Linked DNA regions of Homo sapiens. The protein of the gene in region 1 interacts with the protein of each later gene in a pairwise test. Each region holds a gene or a part of one and is shown on either strand. Other genes may lie near its edges.

Evidence for each region. Proteins that work in one complex are often made in the same cells at the same time.
Region 2: the proteins of GRIPAP1 (region 1) and ING4 interact in binary tests that used the Homo sapiens proteins (3 or more experiments, as listed by UniProt).
Region 3: the proteins of GRIPAP1 (region 1) and TCP10L interact in binary tests that used the Homo sapiens proteins (3 or more experiments, as listed by UniProt).

What each region holds. Positions count from the first base shown.
Region 1 is NC_000023.11:48,999,264-49,006,656, forward strand, and holds the start of GRIPAP1 (GRIP1-associated protein 1), read right to left. Parts: upstream 3,002-7,393; 5' UTR 2,967-3,001; coding exon 2,925-2,966; intron 242-2,924; coding exon 175-241; intron 37-174; coding exon 1-36. UniProt on the Homo sapiens protein: Regulates the endosomal recycling back to the neuronal plasma membrane, possibly by connecting early and late recycling endosomal domains and promoting segregation of recycling endosomes from early endosomal membranes.
Region 2 is NC_000012.12:6,653,101-6,660,122, forward strand, and holds part of ING4 (inhibitor of growth protein 4), read right to left. Parts: intron 3,700-7,022; exon of another isoform or gene 3,699-3,699; coding exon 3,627-3,698; intron 2,814-3,626; exon of another isoform or gene 2,538-2,813; intron 297-2,537; coding exon 130-296; intron 1-129.
Region 3 is NC_000021.9:32,582,505-32,590,473, reverse strand, and holds the start of TCP10L (T-complex protein 10A homolog 1), read left to right. Parts: upstream 1-4,950; 5' UTR 4,951-5,053; intron 5,054-6,168; 5' UTR 6,169-6,169; coding exon 6,170-6,313; intron 6,314-7,969. UniProt on the Homo sapiens protein: May be involved in transcriptional regulation. Has in vitro transcription inhibition activity. Acts as a tumor suppressor in hepatocellular carcinoma (HCC) cells.

The DNA.
Region 1 (7,393 bases):
CCAAGTAGGCGACCTTCTGTCGAAGACTGGTGAGTTCTGGTGTCGGGAAAGCAGGGAAACTCAGCCTCAGCCAGTGGCAAGAAACTGAAAGGCCTTCCTGCCAGGCCTCTGAGGGAAAACCTCGGACACCATTCCCCAAAGCCACCCCCATCTAATAAGGCCCTCCTGGCTCACCAACACCATTCTTGCGTAGTTCATCTGAAAGCTGGTAGTTGTTTGTCCGGAGTTCCAGGAGCTGAGCCTTTGGGGGAGGCAGGAAGGGAAAAGACTTGGTCAGGAAAGCGCCCCTACCCCTACCATGAGGGAACCAAGCCCCTAAGCTCCACAGACCTTACGCCCTCCATGTGCCTCTGTAGCTACTCCTTAAGACCTGTATGTGCTACACCCAAAGTGACCTTCCAGGCCCTCAGACCCTGGCTCACCTTTTCCAGCTCCACTTATAACCCCAGCCAGCCTCACCCCTCCATCTCACACTACAATCCACGCTGCACTCAGGCCATCCCAGAGCACTGCCCCCAGTCAGGGTCTTGCTTGTGTGAGTTCCCTGGCTCTCCATGCCCACAGGATAAAGTTCCTCCTCCTCATCCTGGCTGACCTCTCCACACACTGAACACACACTGTCAGGGGTGTTGTCCATATTTCTGACCAGACCTGGGGGCCTCTGATGGCAGGGGGTTAAGGGCCTGTCTTCCTCCCTCTTTCCTAAGGGAAAAGGGTCAAGTATTCTGCCCAACTTTCATTGAGTCAGGGGGCTTTCCAGGGTCCCCCCACCTCCAAGGCTCTCAAAATACATCCAGGCCCCCTTCAATAATTAAGGGAGGACCAGGTGCGGTGGCTCACACCTGTCATCCCAGCACTTTGGGAGGCCAAGGCGGGTGGGTCACGAGGTAAGGAATTCAAAATCAGCCTGCCCAATATGGTGAAACCCCGTCTCCACTAAAAATATAAAAAATTAGCCGGGTGTGGTGGCGCACACCTGTAGTCCCAGCTACTCGGGAGGCTGAGGCAGGAGAATCGCTTGAACCTGGGAGGTGGAGGTTGCAGTGAGCCGAGATTGTGCCACTGCACTCCAGCCTGGGTGACAGAGTGAGACTCTGTCTCAAAAAAAAAAAAAAAAAAAAAAAAAAAAAAGAATTAAGGGAAAGTGCCAGGCGCAGTGGCTGACACCTGTAATCCAAACACTTTCGGAGGCCAAAGTGGGCAGATCACTTGAGGTCAGGAGTTCAAGACCAGCCTGGCCAACATGGTGAAACCTCATCTCTACTAAAAATACAAAAATTAGCTGGGCGTGGTGGTACGCACCTGTAATCCCAGCTACTAGGGAAGCTGAGATAGGAGAATCACTTGAACCCGGGAGGTGGAGGTTGCAGTGAGCTGAGATCGTGCCACTGCACACTATAGCCTGGGTGACAGAGAAAGACTCTGTCTCAAAAAAAAAGAAAAAGAAAAAGAATTAAGCATCCTCCTCCCTACCAGCCCTATAGGACCCTGAGGCTGGTTCTACCCAGCAAGGCCGGTTCCTTCCCATTAAGGAACTTACTGTTCCTTCCCCTACCAGGACTTTTCCCTCCCTCCCACGCCACCAGCCTCCACTCACTGTTCTCTGGTAGTCTGCTCAAGGTCAGAGGGCTTGGCCTTCACAGAATCTTTCCTACTCCTGTCCTCTCCAGGACCCAGTGATCTGTCTCTCCAAGTACTGGTCCAAGTGGAATATCCTTTGTACCCCCCGAGACTTGCCCCCCAACAAAGCCCAGTAGTTCTCCCTCATTCATGGCCCAGTGGGATCAATGTTCCTCATTCAAGGGTATTCCCACTCCCCTCAAGATCTCCCCAGTCATGATCCATTGGGAATGGCCCTACACCCTTCAGGGTAGGCCTCTACAAGGCCTTGGGTAGGCCAGTTGGATGACTCTTACTCACTTAGAATCCCTTTCAGATGACAGTGGTCTTCCCCATTCATGGGTTAATCAACTCGCCCTTCCATTCTCAGTGTCCCTCACACAGGGACAGCTGGTTTCCCTCATTCAAGGACCAATTGGATTACCTGTCCTCCCTCAGAGTTCCTCCCCTCCCCATGCAGGACCCTGTTCAGACCCCCCCCCCAGTGAGGAACCCTCTCAACAAGGGCCCATTCATAGTGCAATGCTATGGCCTTTCATTGCATCTCAGAGTCCCCCCAAAAGAATCAAGTGGGGGTACCTCCCCAAAGCCCAGTGATCTTCCCTCCTTGTAGTCCAAGGTATCAATCTTTTACCCCTCTGGTCCTCCCCCCAGTTAATGGGATTAATGGTATTACCCATTCATGGCCTTCTTCACCCCAGGCCTAATGGGATCACCCTTAATCATCCAATGGTGCCGCCCCCTCTTAGGATGCACTACCAACCACCAATGGCACAGGATCTCCACCTCCCAGGAACAATGACAACATCTGGGGTCTTTCCCCAATCCCCGGGCACAGTGGTATCTCCCCCAAAACTTACCACCTCCCACCCGCTAATGGTTCTGCCCTCTCAAGGGCTCCCACCACCATGACGCAAACGACCCAACACCCGCTTCCTTCCTCTCCAGACAAAATGGTTTCGCCTTCTCAGGATCTCCTTCCCTCAAAGCCCATTATCATCACCCGCCGACGGTGTCCCCTGCACGGGCCCAAAAGTCTCGTCCCCTCCAGGTCTGAGTAAGGTACCGCCTACTTAATGGCGCTCTCCCAGCCCACAATGCTAACAGAGTCCAACCTTCAAAGCCGCAGAGTATCTCGGAATCCAATAGTCTCACCACTCCGAGCCTCAGTTTCCCTTCTCCAGACCCACCCCATAAACTCAGGGTCCATCCCAACCAACCCCTTCTCAGAGCTGATAGCACGACCTCTCGCTACCCCGCCCCCGGTCGCCTAGCCGGGTGGTCTTTCCCACCGCGAGCGGCACCTGCATCCGCTGAAACTCCTCCTCAGACAGAGCTTGCGCCATGTTCCTCCCCCCACCCCCCCGCCAGCTTTCTGCGCAGACGCAGCTCGCGCCTCCTGGCAGTATTAAGGTCGGACCAAACCACTGGCCAGGAATGGAGGGGGTAGAACCTAATTCCGAAGGGCAGCATTTTGGAGACGCAGAGAAGAGAACGAAACCGACGAGTCAGGTGAACTGTAATACAACGTTCTACCCGAATGTAAGTCATCTGATTGGCTTTTGGACTCTTCTAGGCCACCCATTGTGATACGACATTATTACATCCCCGTTTCATGGGTGGACTCGTCGCTAGGGAAGTCTTTGCCGACAGAAAATCACCCTTCCGCGGTATTCCTTTAATGAGAATGGGTAACTTAATAACCATAGAAATGAAAGCGGAAGCTTCGCTCTGGTCTTGTTCCCGCCCCTCCTCCGGGAGACCCCAAAGGGGAATCCCACCTCTTGTAAAGCCTTTGGCCTTTTTTTTTTTTTTTTTTTTTAAGGTTTGACACTTATTTTGTTATCATGATACTGCATGTCACGTTAGGTAAAGGACTTAGCCACCAATAAAAATAGCAGAGTGGAAAGAGTGACAGTGAATCAAACGAAAAAGCTACATTAAAACAAAACAAAAACAAAAAACAAACCAGGGTGGTGAAACACCAGGCTCATTCAAGTATTAGAATTCACTATAACCCTCACCGATCTGAGAGTAAGAAATGGTATCTCAGTGTAGTTTTTTTCTTATTTTCTTTTTTCTTTCTGTTTTTGTTGTTGTTGTTGTTGTTGTTTTTCTTTTTTGAGACGGAGTTTCACTTTTGTTGCCCAGGCTGGAGTGCAGTGGCACGATATCCGATCACAGCAACCTCCGCTTGGCGAGTTCAAGCGATTCTCCTGCCTCAGCCTCCCGAGTAGCTGGGATTACAGGCGCCCGCCACCTCGTCCGGGTAATTTTTTTTTTTTTTTTTAGTAGAGACGGGGTTTCTCCATATTGGTCAGGCCGGTCTCGAACTCCCGACCTCAGGTAGTCCGCCCGCCTCGGCCTCCCAGAGTGCTGGGATTAAGGCGTGAGCCACCGCGCCCAGCCTTCTTATTTTCGTAGAATTTAATGATTTCCCTGCTGTGGAAAAATATTTCCAGCAGGGCCGGGCGCGGTGGCTCACGCCTGTAATCCCAGCACTTTGGGAGGCCAAGGAGGGCTGTTCACTTGCGGTCAGGAGTTCGAGACTAACCTGGCCAACATGGTGAAACCCCATCTCTACTAAAAACACAAAAATTGGCCGGGTGTGGTGGTGGGCGCCTGTAATCCCAGCTACTCGGAAGGCTGAGGCACGAGAATCGCTTGAACCCGCCAGGCAGAGGTTGCGGTGAGCCGAGATCGCACCACTACACTCCAGCCTGGGGGATAGAGCGAGACTCTGTCTCCAAGAAAAGAAAGAAAAAGAAAAGTATTGCCAGCCAGGACTCTTTGATTTCTTTCTTGATTTAATTGACTTTATTGAAAGATAACGCTATTGATCTGTCTATATACATAAATGCACCCATTTTAAGGGTACAATTTAGTGAGCTTTGTCTAATGTATACAACCTTGTAACCACCATCACAAGCAAGATAGGGAACATTGATTTCTTTGTATCCTATCCCAAACCCCACCCCCTATCCCAGGTAACCAATGATTGGCTTCCTGTTACTGGATTACATTTCTCTTGCAGAGTTTCATGCAAATAGAATGAGACAGGATGTATCCTTTTCTGTCTGGCTTCTTTCACTCATCATAATCCTTTTGAGATTCATCCAAGTTGTTTCGTGTATAAGTATCTTTTTTTCTTTTTATTGACTAGTAAAATTCCATAGTATGGGCCGGGCGGGCTCAGTGGCTCACGCCTGTAATCCCAGCACTTTGGGAGGCCGAGGCAGGTGTATCACCTGAGGTCAGGAGTGCAAGACCAGCCCAGCCAGCATGGTGAAACCACATCTGTACTAAAAATACAAAAATAAGCTAGGAGTGATGGTACACGCCTGTAATCACAGCTACTCAGGAGGCTGAGGCATGAGAATCGCTTGAACCCAAGAGGTGGAGGGTGCAGTGAGCCGAGATCGTGCCACTGCACTCCAGCCTTAGCGATAGAGGGGAAAACTCTGTCTCAAAAACAAAACAAAACAAAACAAAATCCATAGTATGACTATACCACAATTTGTTTATCCATTCTCTTAGTGTAGTTTTAATTTGTGTTTCTCTTATTATGAGTGAGATTCACCACCTTGTCCTATGTTTATTTTATTTTTAATTTTTATTTATTTGTTTTTTTGAGACGGAGTTTCACTCTTGTTGCCCAGGCTGGAGTGCATTGGCGCGATCTCAGCTCACTGCAACCTCCGCCTCCCAGGTTCAAGCAATTCTCCTGCCTCAGCCTCCCAAGTAGGTGGGATTACAGGCGCCTGCCACCATGCCCGACTAATTTTTGTATTTTTAGTAGAGACAGGGTTTTACCACATTGGTCAGGCTGGTCTTGAACTCCTGACCTCAGGCGATCCACCTGCCTCGGCCTCCCAAAGTGCTGGGATTACAGGCATGAGCCACCGTGCCCGAACTTATTTTATTTCATTTTATTTTATTTTGAGACAGGGTCTTGCTCTACCGCCCACGCAGGAGTGTAGTGGCACAATCAGGGCTCACTGCTGCCTTGACTTCCTGGGCTCAAGCAATTCTCCCACCTCAGCCCCCCAAGTAGCTGGGACTACAGACATATGCCACCAAGAATCATTTTAATATCTGTTCTTATTTTATTTTTTTAATTTAATTATTATTTTTCTTTTGAGACAGAGTCTCCCTCTGTTGCCCAGGTTGGAGTGCAGTGGTGCAATCTCGGCTCACTGCAATCTCTGCCTCCCGGGTTCAAGAGATTCTCCTGCCTCAGCCTCCCAAGTAGTTGGGACTACAGGCACCCACCATCATGCCCAGCTAATTTTTGTATTTTTAGTAGAGACGGGGTTTCACCATGTTGGCCAGGTTGGTCTCAAACTCCTGACCTCAAGTTATCCTCCCGCCTCTGCCTCTCAAAGTGCTGGGGTTACAGGTGTGCACAACCGCACCTGGCCTCTTTGCATATTAGGAATATTAACAACTTTTTTGGGTGAGGGTGTACGGAGTTTTGCTCTTGTCGCCCAGGCTGGAGTGCAATGGCGTGATCTTGGCTCACCACAACCTCTGCCTCCCGGGTTCAAGCGATTCTCCTGCCTCAGCCTCACGAGTAGTTGGGATTACAGGCACCCACCACCACGTTTGTATTTTTAGTAGAAATGGGGTTTCACCATGTTGGCCAGCCTGGTCTCGATCTCCTGACCTCAGGTGATCCACCCGCCTCGGCCTCCCAAAGTGCTGGGATTAAAGACGTGAGCTAAGCTACCACACACGGCCTTTTCCTTTTCTTTTTCTTTTTTTTTTTTTTTTTGAGACAGGGTCTCGCTCTGTCATCCAGACTGGAGTGCAGTGGTGCAATCTCGGCTCACTTCAGCCTCGACCTTCTGGGCTCAACCAGTCCTCCTACCTCAGCCTCCCAAGTAGCTGGGACTACAGGCACAGGCTACCATGCCCAGCTAATTTTTTTTTAATTTTTTGTAGAAACCAAGTCTTACTATGTTGCCCAGGCTGGTCTCAAACTCCTGGGCTCAAGTGATCCACCCACATCTGCCTTCCAAAGTGCTAAGATTTCAGGGGTGAGCCACCACACTAGGCCTACTTTTGGTTTTTTTTTGTATGTGTGTGATTTTTTGAGATGAAGTCTCGCTCTGGAGTTCAGTGGCCCGATCTTGGCTTACTGCAACCTCTGCCTCCCAGGTTCTAGCGATTCTCCTACCTCAGCCTCCCAAGTTGCTGGGATTATGGGCACGTGACACCATGCCCGTCTAATTTTTGTATTTTTGGTGAGACAGGTTTCACCATGTTGGCCAGGTTGGTCTCAAACTCCTGGCTGCAAGGGATCTGCCCACCTCAGCCTCCCAAAGTGCTGGGATTACAGGCGTGAGCCACCGTGCCCGGCCCTTGCCTACATTTGTAATATATAAATTATGTTGTCACAGTCTCCATTCCATACTGGATTCCCTGACCTCCTGGTTGCTTTTTTTAAAATTTTGCATACATTAACAAACTTTTTTTATATCGTAAAGATCAATGGGTTTTGACAGAAGCATTTTAAAGTGTTCCACACATAGATTTTTTTCACATTTCTTGTTAGATTTCTTCCTAATTATTTTCTTTGATGCTATGGATGCTATTGTAAATGAGGTTTTCTCTATCATTGTATCTCTTTTTTTTTTTTCGGTAGAGACAGGATCTCACTATGTTGCCCCAGCTGGACTGCACTGGCTATTTATAGGCATGATCATGGCACACTACAGCCGTGAACTCCTGGGCTCAAGCCATCCTCCCATTTCAACTTCCCAAGTAGCTG
Region 2 (7,022 bases), on another chromosome or scaffold:
AGAAAATAGGTTAAGGCAGAGTTTATGGATCTCACAGACCCCAAACAGATCCCAACACAGTTGAAGGAGGGGTCTAAGACCCTGAGGATTAGATGGGAAGTAGGTGGGGAGCCATGAACAGGGCCATACCATCTCATAGGTCTGCATGGCAAGCTGCACCTTGTCGTCACCAAATTCCTTGCACTTGCCATAGGCTTCCTGGATCTGTTTGAGAAGGGCCAATTTTTCCTCGGAGCTCAGGCTGCGGGCACTACTCATATACTCAGTGGCCAACTTGTCAATTTCAGCCTTCAGGTCTACAACAGAGACAGAGGCCTGGTCACAATGGCCCCTGAGTGGCTAGGTGAAACACATTTCTTCCTTTTGTTCTTTGGACCTTTTCCATTGATTAGCATAACCTTCCAACTAAAAAGTACTGAATGTTCAGAGGTACTGTGCCATGCACTCAAGTAATGGAACATACTGACAATATTTGCTTTAAAGGTCCTTTCAAGGTGCTGAAAACATTGCTATCATAGTTGGAATTTAAATTACTGAAACACAGCAAGGGATCCTTTGCACACCACATTAATATGAAGTGTATTTTTGTCCATGTTTGAAGATGCTTCTTTGAAGGGCTTGCTGCTTCTTGAATTTTGTCTCAAAAGCCATTGTTTCCTTCTCAAAAACATCCCACAGCAGTTGTCTGCCGCAAATCAGGCTGAGTCATCTGCTGTTGCTGGTTTCCAAGTCTGTACATCAATATCATACATTTCAAAATTATTAGTATTTTTTCTTTTTGACACAGGGTCTCACTTTGTCGCCCAGGCTGGAGTGCAGTGGCACAATCATGGCTCACTGCAGCCTCAACTTCCTGAGCTCTGGTGATCCTCCCATCTCAGGCACCACCACGCCTGGCTAATTTTTTCTATTTTTTTGTAGAGACAGGCTTTTTCCACGTTACCCAGGCTGGTCTCGAACTCCTGGGTCAAGCAATCTGCCTGCTTCAGCCTCCCAAAGTGCTGGGATTATTGGGGGTGAGCTACCATGCCTGGCCTAATCTATTTATTTTTAGAGGCAGGCGCAGGTTCTCTCTTATGTTTGTTGCCTAGGCTGACCTCCAACTCCTGTCCTCAAGTGATTCTATCTTTTCGCCTCCTGAGTAGTTGAGTATATCACACAATTTAAAATTAGACCTTACTCCAACATCCATGTAACAATTCTGCTTATCTTACTGCTCACTCTATTTTTCTTTTTTTTTTTTTTTGAGACAGGGTCTCACTCTATTGCCCAGGTTGGATGGAGTGCAGTGGCATGATCATGGATCACACTGCAGCCTCAACCTCTGAGCTCAAATGATCTCCCATTTCAGCCTCTGGAGTAGCTGGGACCACAGGCACATGCCACTACACCCTGATAATTTTTTTAAAAAAATTATTTCTAGAGATGAGGTCTCACTATATTGCCCAGGCTGGTCTTGAACTCCTGGTCAAATGATCCACCTGCCTCAGCCTCCCAAAGTGTTGGGATTCCAGGTGTGAGCCACTGCAGCCAGGCTGCCCATCCTATTTGGCTCATCATTGCAACTTCTTTCATTTTCCATTACTTCTTTTTTTCCTGTTTGTCCATCCTAGATATTGCTCCAAACACGTTTTTTTGTTTTGAGACGGAGTCACGCTCTGTTGCCCAGGCTGGTGTGCAGTGGCACGATCTTGGCTCACCTCAACCTCTGCCTCGTGGGTTCAAGGGATTCTCGTGCCTCAGTCTCCCAAGTAGCTGGGACTACAGGTGTGCGCCACCACATCTGGCTAATTTTTGCATTTTTAGTAGAGATGTGGTTTCACCATGTTGGCCAGGCTGGTCTCGAAGTTCTGATCTCAAGTGATCTGCCCGCCTCGGCCTCCCAAAGTACTGGGATTACAGACATGAGCCACGGCACCCGGTCTCCCAGATGTTTTATTTTATTTTATTTATTTTTTTTTGAGACCAAGTCTCACTGTGTTGCCCAGGCTGGAGTGCAGTAGTGTGATTTCAGCTCACTGCAACCTCCACCTCCCAGGTTCAAGCGATTCTCCTGCATCAGCCTCCTGAGTAGCTGGGATTACTGGCATGCGCCACCACACCCGACTAATTTTTGTATTTTTAGCAGAGACAGGGTTTCACCATATGGGCCAGGCTGATCTCAAACTCCTTATCTCAGGAGACTCACCCGCCTCTGCCTCCCAAAGTGCTGGGATTACAGGCGTAAGCCACCGCACCCGGCCCCAAATGTTTTAATATTGGAAGAATGGTAATGTCCCAGGACATTGAGACTATAGATGTTTACTAATATTTGGAAGGGCTCATAAATATGTCAGTAGTAAGAGACAAGTCTGACTCTAACATAGTGCAGCAACAGATAACCAGGAGGATCTGTGAAGACACTGTTTATACTCCACTTCATTCCAGGCTCTTGGAAGAAGCTGAAAAAGCATATAGTTCCATAATCTCCAACTGTCTTTCCATGCATGAACTCAAGAGTTACAACTGTATTACAAAAAAAGCAATCTGGTTCTCACCATTCGGCAGGCAGTTCTCAGGGAACTGTGTCCAGGGTTTTTGATGATGTTCACCTTTTCATGTGTAAACTCAGAGTAACTTAAGACACAGCTTCATGTATCTCAAAACCAGTCTGTTACATCCTTGAACATGGCTACATAGAATGAAGACAAGACTACAGATCCTTCAGTGGGTATGGGAATAGCTCCAACAGACATCTTTGAAGAAACCAAGTGAATGCCCCAATGCAGCCAAATTTGCTCAATGTTCCAGGCTGGAGATGGTATCTAATGCTTCTGTAAGTGTGAACGGTATAGAGATCCCATTGTCAATTACTGCTTTTTTTTCTTTCCTCTTTCTTTTTTCTTTCTCTTTTTAAGGACTTCTCATATAGCAAACCTCCCATCTACCAACATATGTTGCAGTCTAAAGTCACACTGGGAATTTGTGACAGTAACATTAACAATGAGAGAAGTAGAAACATTCTAGTCATCCTATAAATATATCAAACGTGGAGAGCAGAAATGACTCGAGTTGACTTTCTTTAATTCTTCTTTTTTTTTTTTTTTGAGACAGAGTCTTGCTCTGTTGCCTAGGCTGGAGTGCAGTGACATGTGGCATGATTTGGGCTCACTACAACCTCCACCTCCCAGGTTCAAACGATTCTCACGTCTCAGCCTCCCAAGTAGCTGGGATTACTGGTGCGTGCCACCACACCTGGCTAGTTTTTGTATTTTTAGTAGAGATGGGGTTTCACCATGTGGCCAGGCTGATCTCAAACTCCTGGCCTCAAGTTACCTGCCCGCCTAGGCCTCCCAAAGTGCTGGGATTACAGGTGTGAGCCAGCCTGGCTAATTATTCTCCAGGAAGACATAAAGAACACAGCATCTTTGAATTCTTGAGGCGTTTTCACAATACTCTATTTGTTATGAAAAAGCTGACACAGAAATGAGGATCATTATCCTGTTTTAAGAATTCCAAGAGCGTAAAAAAGGAGCGAGAGAAGCCACAGTTCTCCAGATCATACCAGATGATACGGTAACATCAAGTAGAAAAATAAATGATTACACACACTCATTAGATACAAAAACTTTTTACTCTATACATACCCTCTGTTCTTTGGTCTAGGTCCCTCATGAGCTGAAAGTTTCTCTGTAATTCAAAGGGAAGGTTTTCAATACCTAGGGAAGAGAGAGAAACAATCACAGGACTGACTATGCATAGGCCTTACAGCTCCTTTTAAAGTGCAGTTCAGGCCGGACATGGTGGCTCACGCCTGCAATCCCAGCACTTTGGGAGGCCAAGGGGGTGGATCACTCAAGGCCAGGAGTTCAAGACCAGCCTGGCCAACATGGCGAGACCTCCATCTCTATTAAAAATATGAAAATTAGCCTAGTGTGACGGTGGGCATCTCTAATCCCAGCTACTTGGGAGGCTGAGGCATGAGAATCACTTGAATCCAGGAGGCAGAGGTTGCAGTGAGCCGTGATTGAGCCACTGCACTCCAGCCTGGGCAATAGAGCAAGTCCCTGTCTCAAAAACAAACAAATGGCCAGGCATGGTGGCTCACACCTGTAATCCCAGCACTTTGGGAGGCCGAGGAGAGCAGATCACGAGGTCAGGAGATTGAGACCATCCTGGCTAACATGGTGAAACCCCGTCTCTACTAAAAATACAAAAAATTAGCCAGGTGCGATGGCGGGCGCCTGTACTCCCAGCTACTCAGGAGGCTGAGGCAGGAGAATGGCATGAACCTGGGAGGCGGAGTTTGCAGTGAGCCGAGATCGCACCACTGCACTCCAGCCTGGGCGACACAGTGAGACTCCATCTCAAACAAACAAACAAACAAACAAAAAATAAAGTGCAGCTCAGTTTTCCTTCCTCTGAACCTCTGGATTTATCTGTGACAGGATGGATCAGTTCTCTCATGACAGGCCATGCTTAACTCTTTCTCTACAAAACCTTTCCATTTCTGCATGGCTATCCCACCCTTTTCGCCTTCAGTGACCTTCCTTTATAAATAAGCTCTTCCCGTCAGGTGTGGTGGCTCAAGCCTGTAATCCCAGCACTTTGGGAGGTTGAGGCGGGTGGATCACGAGGTCAGGAGTTCGAGACCAGCCTGGCCAACATGGTGAAAGCCTGTTTCTACTAAAAATATAAAAATTAGCCAGGTGTGGTGGCACGTACCTGTAATCCCAGCTATTCAGGAGGCTGAGGCAGGAGAATCACTTGAACCTGGGAGGCAGAGGTTGCAGTGAGCCAAGACTGCACTACTGCACTCCAGCCTGGTGACAGAGCGAGACTCTGTCTCCAAAAAAAAAAAAAAAAGCTCTTCCCTTTCTTTTCCTTTTTTGTTTTTTGAGACGGAGTCTGGCTCTGTTGCCCAGGCTGGAGTGCAGTGGCACGATCTTGGCTCACTGCAGCCTCCACCTCCTGGGTTCAAGTGATTCTCCTGCCTCAGCCTCTGGAGTAGCTGGGACCACAGGCGCGCGCCACCACACCCGACTAATTTTTGTATTTTTAGTAGACACAGGGTTTCACCATTTTGGCCAGACTGGTCTTGAACTCCTGGCCTCAGGTGATCCGCCCGCCTTGATCTCCCAAAGTGCTGGGATTACTGGCATGAGCCACTAAGACGGGCCCCTTTCTTTTATTTTCCATCTCTGCCTCCAAGCTCTTTGTCCTCAAATTACAAATAGTCTCCTGGTATCCTCTATTATACACATAACACTTCCAATCTACTTCCATATAGTAGCCAGAATGTCCTTTTTAAAAAATGCAAACCTGGCCAGGCACGGTGGCTCATGCCTGTAATCCCAGCACTTTGGGAGGCCCAGGTGGGCGCATCAGCTGAGCTGAGGAGTTCAAGACCAGCCTGGGCAACATGGTGAAACTCTGTCTCTACCAAAAATACAAAAACTTAGCCAGGCTTGGTGCACATGCCTGTAATCCCAGCTACTTGGGAGGCTGGGGCACAAAAATCCCTTGAACCTGGGAGGTGGACATTTCAGTGAGCCGAGATCACGCCAATGCACTCCAGCCTGGATGACAGAGCAAGACACTGACTCAAAAAAACAAAAACAAAAACAAACACAAAAATAAAAAATGCAAACCTAATCAAGTCACTCTCCCGCTTATAACCTTCTGGTCACTTCCTACTGCTCTGAAGATGTTCTGCGCTTTCTGGCCCTTGCTTACCTCACACCAGCCTGAACTCATGTCAGTCTCCCTTTGTGCTCTGCTTTGCCCATACTGGCCTCCTCGCACTGCCTCAAACTGGCCTGTGCTCCTCCTGCCATTTGGCTTTCCACATGCTGTTCTCTCTAGTTGGAATGCACCGCTCGCTTTTCCTCATCCCATCCACCCCATCCCTCTTGGCCTATTAAATTCCTGTTCGTTCTTCCAAAGTTCAGCTCAAACTCAACTTTCCCAGACTCTGTTAACTGCCCTCGATCTATGTCAAGGTATTCTAGCCACCTTTTTAAAGCACTTATCCAACTGTAATTAAATAAATGTGTAATTAGTTGGCTGGGTGCGGTGGCCCATGCCTGTAATCCAGCACTCTGGAAGGCAGGTGGATCACTCAAGGCCAGGAGTTCAAGACCAGCCTTGGCAGCCTGGCAAAACCCCATCTCTACTAAAAATACAAAAATTAGGGCCAGGCACGGTGGCTCATGCCTGTAATTCTAGCACTTTGGGAGGCCGAGGCGGGTGGCTCACTTGAAGCCAGGAGTTCAAGACCAGCCTGGCCAACATGGTGAAACCTGTAATCCCAGATACTTGGGAGGCTGAGGCACAAGAATTGCTTAAATCCGGGAGGTGGAGGTTGCAGTGAGCTGAGATCGCACCACTGCACTTCAGCCTGGGTGACAGAGTGCGACTCCATCTCAAAAACAAAACAAAACAAAAATTAGGCCAGGCGCGGTGGCTCACACCTGTAATCCCGGCACTTTGGGTGGCCGAGGAGAGCAGATTACGAGGTCAGGAGATTGAGACCATCCTGGCTAACATGGTGAAACCCCGTCTCTACTAAAAATACAAAAAAATTAGCTGGCCGTGGTGGCGGGCGCCTGTAGTCCCAGCTACTCGGGAGGCTGAGGCAGGAGAGTGGCGTGCATCCAGGAGGTGGAGCTTTCAGTGAGCCGAGATCGCTCCACTGCACTCCAGCCTGGGCGACAGAGCGAGACTCTGTCTCAAAAAAAAAAAAAAAAAATAGATGGGCATGGTGGCCTGTGGCTGTAGTTCCAGTTACTCAAGAGACTGAGGCAGGACAATTGCTTGAACCAGGGAGGTAGAGGTTGCAGCCCGGGCAAAAGAGCAAGACTGTTTCAAAAAACAAAAAAATTAAAAAAAATAATGTGTAATTAGTTATTTGGTATCTGTCTCCCCAGGCCGAACATGGCTATCATATTCTCTCCTGTTTCCATAGTGTTTAGAATTATGACTTGCAAAGAGCAGGTACTCAGTAAATACTTGAATAAATGCATGAATATTTGTCACCCCAG
Region 3 (7,969 bases), on another chromosome or scaffold:
TGGTCCCTTCCTGTCTTCAGGCAGAGTGAGCCTCTTCAAACCTCTCCCCTCCCTCCCTCCCTCCCTTCTTTCCTTCCTTCTTTCCTTCTTTCTCTCTCTCTCTTTCTTTCCTCTTTCTTTCTTTTTCTTTCTCTTTCTCCTTCCTTCCTCCCTCTCTCCCTCCCTACCTCTCTCTTTCTTTCTTTCTTTCTTCTTTCTCTTTCTTTCTTTCTTTATTTCTTTTTCCTTCTTTTTCAGACATTGTCTCACTCACTCACCCAGGCTGGAGTCCAGTGCCACAATCTCAGCTCACTGCGGCCTCTGCCTCCTGGGCTCAAGTGATCCTCCCACTCCAGTCTCCCGACTAGCTGATTTTGTCCCATGATTTTGTAGTATTTCAAGACCAGTATTATGAATATTAGTTTTCATTTTTCTGGCAACTATTTAGTTCTGGCTAACAGAGCACTGACTGGATAAGTATCAGGTCACAAAATATTTACCATGGGTTCATATGATGTGGTAAACTTGTGTCTTTCATGGGGGCTTTTAGCTAAAGCAGTAATTAGAGGTATTGTAAGATGAACCCCTTAGCTAATTGCAAGCTGTACCTGACGTCTCCCATGAAGACAAGCAGCCAGATCCTGAAATTCATGACTGATGACTTGTGAAAGTCTAACGCATATTCTGCAATGATGTGCCATGGGCCTCTGCCATTTCACCTCACCATCACGCCACAAATTAGTACTCACAGCTGAGAGTTTAGACCTAAAAGGGGCAATAAAATTGAGTTCAAATACTGTATTAAGGGACTTGCCCAAAATTACATAATTATTTTGTGTAAAGTCCAAATTATACAAATCCTCAGATTCCGAGGTCGGGGTTTCTTTTCCTGTAACATGTTCCTTCAAATATGGCTGTATCCATGTTTCATATCAAGCAGATCCGAGAAAAATTATGAATAATCAGATAGCATAATGTGGACACAGGGTCACGAGCAATAAAGGGTTCTTATAGAGCTATTAGGAAGAGCATGGTGCCTGCGAGCAGTAGGAAGATTGTTTTATGTATTTATTGGCCTTATAACTATGGTTTAGAAGTGGCAGGAACCCACAGAGGTATACCTACAGAAAGACTTAAAAGAAATAAAACTCCCAGCCTCAATGGGGTATCATGCCACCCTCAGTACCACTATCTCAATCTTAGGCTTCATACACATACCAAGAAACTTCCCACTTCTTTTAATACAAGAACTTTCAGATTTTAAAAATCTTCTCAGGATTCTCTCTCCTCTGTGACCTCTTCAGCAATGGTATTGGAAGTCATGGGTTGATGTTATCTGGCTGAGGGGTTTATCTAGAAATGTCTCCTGACTTCAGGTCTCTTTAGATGTAAGTTAGCTTCTTCCTCTGTCCGTACTCAGTCTCAGCTGGTCACTGACTATGTAATTTCCTTTCTAATCAGTTGGGTCCTACTGCAGAAACAAAATAACACAACGTAGAGTAAATACATTATTGGGATGGCTAGCAGTCATTGGGCATTTTTCTCTGTTCATTATCTTGAAGAGCATACTGTACTCCCTCAATTCATTTTAAACAAAAAAACTTTAGAATGTAATTAACGGAAATTCTCACTATTGTGGATTGAGTCGTTTTTATATGTTGCCTTACCACTTTGCTTAAAGGGGCAATGTCTTTCCTTATTCTCAACCTTTACGAAATATTGTACAGAGAACATTTTTAAAGAGTGTGTAATCCCAGCACTTTAAGAGGTTGAGACAGGTGGATCACTTGAGTCCAGAAGTTCGAGACCAGCCAGTGCAATATAGCGAGACCTGTCTCTACCAAAAATTCAAAAATTAGCTGGGTGTGGTGGTGTGAACCTGTAGTTCTAGCTACTAGGGAGGCTGAGGTGGGAGGATTGCTTGAGCCTAAGAGGTCAAGGTTGCAGTGAACCGAGATGGTGCCACTGCACTCCAGCCTAGGCAACAGAGCAAAACCTTGTCTCACAAGAAGAAGAAAAAAAAAAAAAGGAGTGTGTCACTTATAACATTCAGACTCAGCTCATAAAATCCAAAAGAAACATGGAGTTTTGAGTGTGCTGAAATGCACCACTGACGGGACAACTAGAAAATGAGTAGAAAATCTTTATCTGTTTTGTTTTTTTTTGAGATGGAGTCTCACTCTGCCGCCAGACTGGAGTGCAGTGGTGCCATCTTGGCTCACTGCAGCCTCCACCTCCCAGGTTCAACCAATTCTCCTGCCTCAGCCTCCCAAGTAGCTGGGACTACAGACGCGTGCCACCACACCCAGCTAATTTTTTTTATTTTTTTATTTTTAGCAGAGACAGGGTTTCACCATGTTGGCCAGGATGGTCTTGATCTCTTGACCTTGTGATCTGCCCACCTCAGCCTCCCAAAGTGCTGGGATTACAGGCGTGAGCCACCATGCCCGGCCGAAAATCTTTATCTTTTGGTTCTATCATTGTACACTACAGCTACTGGTAATAGTATTAAGGCATATTTTACAATTCATATTTGGATTCGATCACAGGGCTCACACTCTCTTATCTTCACCTCTCACAAGTTTTGCCATAAGAATTTTGTGGTAGTTTGAGGAACTCAACACAGCTGCAAGTATTTCGCTGGAATCTACTATGATCTGTGTCACTTGAGGCACAGAGTGAGCTCATGTCATTCTTTGGATGACATGCACCCCTCCCTAACTTATTCCGACATTTAGTCATCCAAGAATTCACTCAGCTCTGGTGGGGTGGGCTCCAATCTCAATGGCATCTCACCAGTTCCCAGGTCATATTGCCCATTTGCAGTGATGATATTTAGAAAAGGTGATTTCTTTTGTCAGGGTCTGTACCACTATAGAAGTAGTCCTTTGAACCAGAAATTTAAACACATAAGCTACTTTAAAAAGTGTATCTGCTGCTACTCCAAGCAGCCAGCTCAGGAACTGGCTTCTGATTTTAAAAGATGAGTGAAAGGTGTGCCGTGGTTTCCTCTACAGAATGTTCAGACCAGAGGGCCCTGGAAGACCATGCCTGAAATGCGGCTAAGGCACCGCGAGGCTGAACAGAAAACCGGGGCCTTATCAGAGAGAAGAGAAGGGCCCCACAGTCCAAACGCCCAGGAGCCTCCGCCCTGACCTGCTGCCGCACGTGGTTGCTGCAGGGTGAGAATCTGGGGAAGACTCAATGAAGAAAATGTCCTGGCCAGGCCGGGAAGAGCAACACACAGAGAGCCGCAGCAGAGACAGGGATGGGGGGACCCTGCCCTGGGAGCCGCCCGGCTGAGGCTCAGGAGGGGAGCTGCAAAGCCTGAAACCTACACAACCTCTCACACACTTCAGGACACACACAACCCCTCACGCACCTCAGGGACTCACACAACCTCTCACACACCTCAGGAAGCTACACAAACTCTCACACACCTCAGAAACCTACACAAACTCTCACACACCCCAGGGACTCACACAACCTCTCACACACCTCAGGACACACACAACCCCTCACATACCTCAGGAACCTACGCAAACTCTCACACACCTCAGGACACACACACAACCTCTCACACACCTCAGGACAAACACCCACTCACACACCCCAGGACCCAAGCACAACCCCTCACACACCTCAGGACACACACACAACCCCTCACACACCTCAGGAACCCATATAAGGAACCCACACACCTCAGGCTCATACACACAAGCCCTCACACACCTCAGGAATCCACACACAACCCCTCACACACCTCAGGGTCTCACACACAATGTTGACACACCTCAGGGTCTCATACACAAACCCTCACACACCTCAGGACCCACACAATTCATCACACTTCTCAGGACACACATAAAACCCCTCACACACCTCAGGGGCCCATACATAACCCCTCACACACCTCAGGACTCACACACAATCCTCTCACACACCTCAGGACTCACACAACCTCTCACACACCTTAGGACCCACACACAACCACTCACACACCTTAGGACCCACACACAACCTCTCACACACCTTAGGACCCACACACAACCACTCACACACCTTAGGACCCACACACAACCTCTCACACACCTCAGGGACCCACACACAACCACTCACACACCTCAGGACCCACACACACCTCATACACCTCAGGGACACACACAACCCCTCACATACCTCAGAAACCTATATAAACTCTCACACACTTCAGGACAAACATACAACCTCTCACGCACCTCAGGACACACACACACACACTCGCACACCTCAGGACACACACACACACTCTCACAGTTAGAATGACACATGGGGACAAAAGTGCCTTCTGTTTCCTCTTTGTAGTATTCTCTTCATTCATTCATGACGTCGGCATTTACTGCCTATTGCATGCGAATCGCTTGCAGAACTATCCAAGTGACACACGTCCCAAGCAGGCTCAGGTGAGCCCCAGGTGTATGTTGTCCACACGCAGCACCATGGATGAGAAGGACAGCCAGGGTTTAACAGGAATATCGACTCTTGCTTGCTCCTCATTCTCTTCTCTATCACAAAAATCACACGGACAATTCAGATGGAGATGCATTTAGTGAAATGATGAAACTTTGAATCCTGTCTCCTATTTAAACTCACATATATTATTTTCCCTTCATAAAAATGTTTTTTCTAGTAAATAATTTGATATCCGAAGAAAGTTTGTATTTCTCCAAGAATGTATGCTCAGAGAAATGAGCTCTTACTACACGTTGCGTATTGAAGACTGGATATAAAACACATGGTTTTTGTCAATTTGGAGGAGTAGTTTGACTCTCTCCAATGTCCTTTGTGGATGGATGGACTCCACTGACGATGAGCTTCTATATTAAGAATTGCAGGTTTGGGGATGTTTAATTATTATCTGAGCTGGTACAGTGGTGACGCTGAGTGAGACGTTCATGTCCCTTTAAGACAGAAAGTCCGTTGGAACTGTCCGCTGCTCTCTGGTCTCTGGATATGAGGCAGGAGGGCTTGGGGACAACTGTGGGGACATGGCCCAGATGATCTGATCCTGGCAGTAGTGACTGTTGGGGACCAGGTGAGGTGACGAGGTCTGGTGGTGGGGCTGAAGGAAAGGGTCTTCCCTGGACTGAGGGGGTCATGAGTTTGGGGCCGAGGACACTGGGGTGTCCCCTCAGAGGAGCAGGAAAGAAGGAGCTTTCTCAGGGCTGTGAGGACCGTGACCCCAGCCCACTTCCGCAGAAACATTCCCAGTCTCCGCGGGGAAGGAATGGCAGTGATCTGGTTACTGGTAGGTCTTGCTCTAGACCTTCGATTCGCTTCCATCAGGAGACTCTCTTTTAAATAGCATTTCTCCGATCACTGTGGTTAAACTGTTCCTTCTCACACAGTTAGAAGTTTATGAATTAAACAGTCGGGGTTTCGTTGGGGGCCACTGGCTTCCTAAAACGGACAGGGCAAGGCAGGGGTGGAGGCAGCTTTCAGAGACGACCCTGCAGGCTTGCAGGAAAGCTTTGCGTTTTTCTCTTTCGTTTTTGTTCTCTAATTGCTGTGAACTTCCTAGAACTGGCATAAATGCTGTACCTATAAAAAGGTGTTTCCTTTCCACATCTTCACCATGAATTCACAAATGTCACCCTGATGGTTCAAGACACATACTCAACACGGTGGAGGGTCTGCCTGTGCCCCTCCAGGTGGGTGCTGATTAAAGGGCTGAGAATTCCCTCGGTGTCTCATGCGACCCTCCACTCACACCTGCTCACACCCTGAGACCATTCCACTCACACCTGCTCATACCCCAAGACCATCGTGCTCACATCCGCTCACATCCATTCACATTCCGCTCATATCCTGCTCACAACCCACTCACATCCCACTCACACCGGCTCACACCCCACTCACACCCCTCTTTGGATGACTGGAGTGTGTTAGGTGTCAGGCTGATCTTCTAGGATCTAAAGCATTTTCCACGGAGGATGGTGGAGAGCCAGGTGTGGACAGCTCAGTCCCTCTGTCTGTGGTGTCCTTTCACCTGGTCAGCTTCGGGCCTGGGAATGTGCACATGACCCAGGGGGAGAAGGAGCGGCTGCGGGTCCTGCTCACCCTTAGTTTGGGGCTGGGGCCTTCAGCCCACACTGACGGGGTAGGAGGGCTGCATTCAAGTGTCCCCATAGCCCTTCCCTTCCCAACCAGGATGCTGGCAGGTCAACTCGAGGCCAGGGACCCCAAAGAGGGCACCCACCCAGAGGACCCGTGCCCAGGAGCTGGGGCTGTCATGGAGAAGACAGCTGTGGCAGCCGAGGTTCTCACGGAGGACTGCAACACTGGGGAGATGCCAGTGAGTTGAGCTCTGTGGGGACAGAGTTAGTCCCACCAGGCGGGACCCTGATTCCTGTCCCTGAGGCCCGTCATTGGACTTTCCCTTGCTGGACCCCTGTAGGAATGCACCACCCCGGGACACTGATTCTGTACTTCCTCTCCAAGGGGCATGTGGCTCTTTCCCCCTCTGCAACCGTATCTCTTGGTGGATGGGAGGCAGGGCAGGGAGTTAAAGAAAATATTAACATTCCAGCTTTTCTCCTCTAATCCAGGAGAAGGCACCAGACTTTAAAAACTTCATTAAAGAAAATCAGAAAGTTGACATGCCTCACATCATCCCAGCAAGTTTCCTGATTTTTACCATCTTCCTCATTGGACCCTGTTGGACAGTGCTTGCTGTCATTAAAGTCCCACGGGTCCCTGTGGCCAGGGCCACCCAGTGCAGGACTGTACCTTTATCACGATCCCACTTATTCTCAGAGCAAGGCTGGAGGCTCTACGATCCAGTGAAGGATCCCAGGGGAAGGCTAACATGTTAGGTTGAAAATGCAGTGGCTTCCATAATTTTTTTTTTTTTTTTTTTTTTTTTTTGAGACGGAGTCTCGCTCTGTCGCCCAGGCTGGAGTGCAGTGGCGGGATCTCGGCTCACTGCAAGCTCCGCCTCCCGGGTTCACGCCATTCTCCTGCCTCAGCCTCCCACGTAGCTGGGACTACAGGCGCCCGCCACTACGCCCGGCTAATTTTTTGTATTTTTAGTAGAGACGGGGTTTCACCGTGTTAGCCGGGATGGTCTCGATCTCCTGACCTCGTGATCCGCCCGCCTCGGCCTCCCAAAGTGCTGGGATTACAGGCGTGAGCCACCGCGCCCGGCCGGCTTCCATAATTTTTAAACTATTGACCATATATCCATGCCAGTACAGCCTTTGAGACCAGTCTGGCCAACATGGTAAAACCCTGTCTCTACTAACAATAGAAAAATTAGCCAGGTGTGGTGGCATGTGCCTGTAATCCCAACTACTCTGGATGCTGAGGCACCAGAGTTGCTTGAATCTGGGAAGTGGAGGTTGCAGTGAGCTGAGACTGCGCCACTGCACTCCAGCCTGGGTGACAGAGAAAGACACTGTCTCAAAAAAAAAAAAAAAAAAAAAAAAAAAAGGAAAAGAATGCCAGCCTCTTTTTGCTGTAGTAGTGTTTTAACAAAAAAATCATAATTCACTAACCATCTTTATCTGGTTATATTATGTGGACTAACTCATAATAAACACTACTTAATAAGAATAAAGCTATGGCCAGGCATGGTAGCTTATTCCTGTAATCCCAGCACTTTGGGAGGCCGAGGCAGGTGGATTGCTTGAGCCCAGGAGTTTGAGACCAGTCTGGGCAACATGGTGAACCCCCATCCCGAGTAAAAATACAAAAATTAGCGAAGTATGGTGGCACATGCCTGTAGTCCCAGCTATTTGGGAGGTCGAGACAGGAGGATCGCTTGAGCTCATCAAGTTGAAGCTTCAGTGAGCTGAGATCATGCCACTGCACTCCAGCCTGAGTGACTGAGTGAGACCCTGAAAAAAGAAAAGAAAAGAAAGAAAGAAAGGAAAGAAAGAAGAAAGAAAAAGGCTGTGGTAGTCCTGTTTATCTCATCGGGTGTCTTTTATTCCAGAAATAGTGTTGGTCT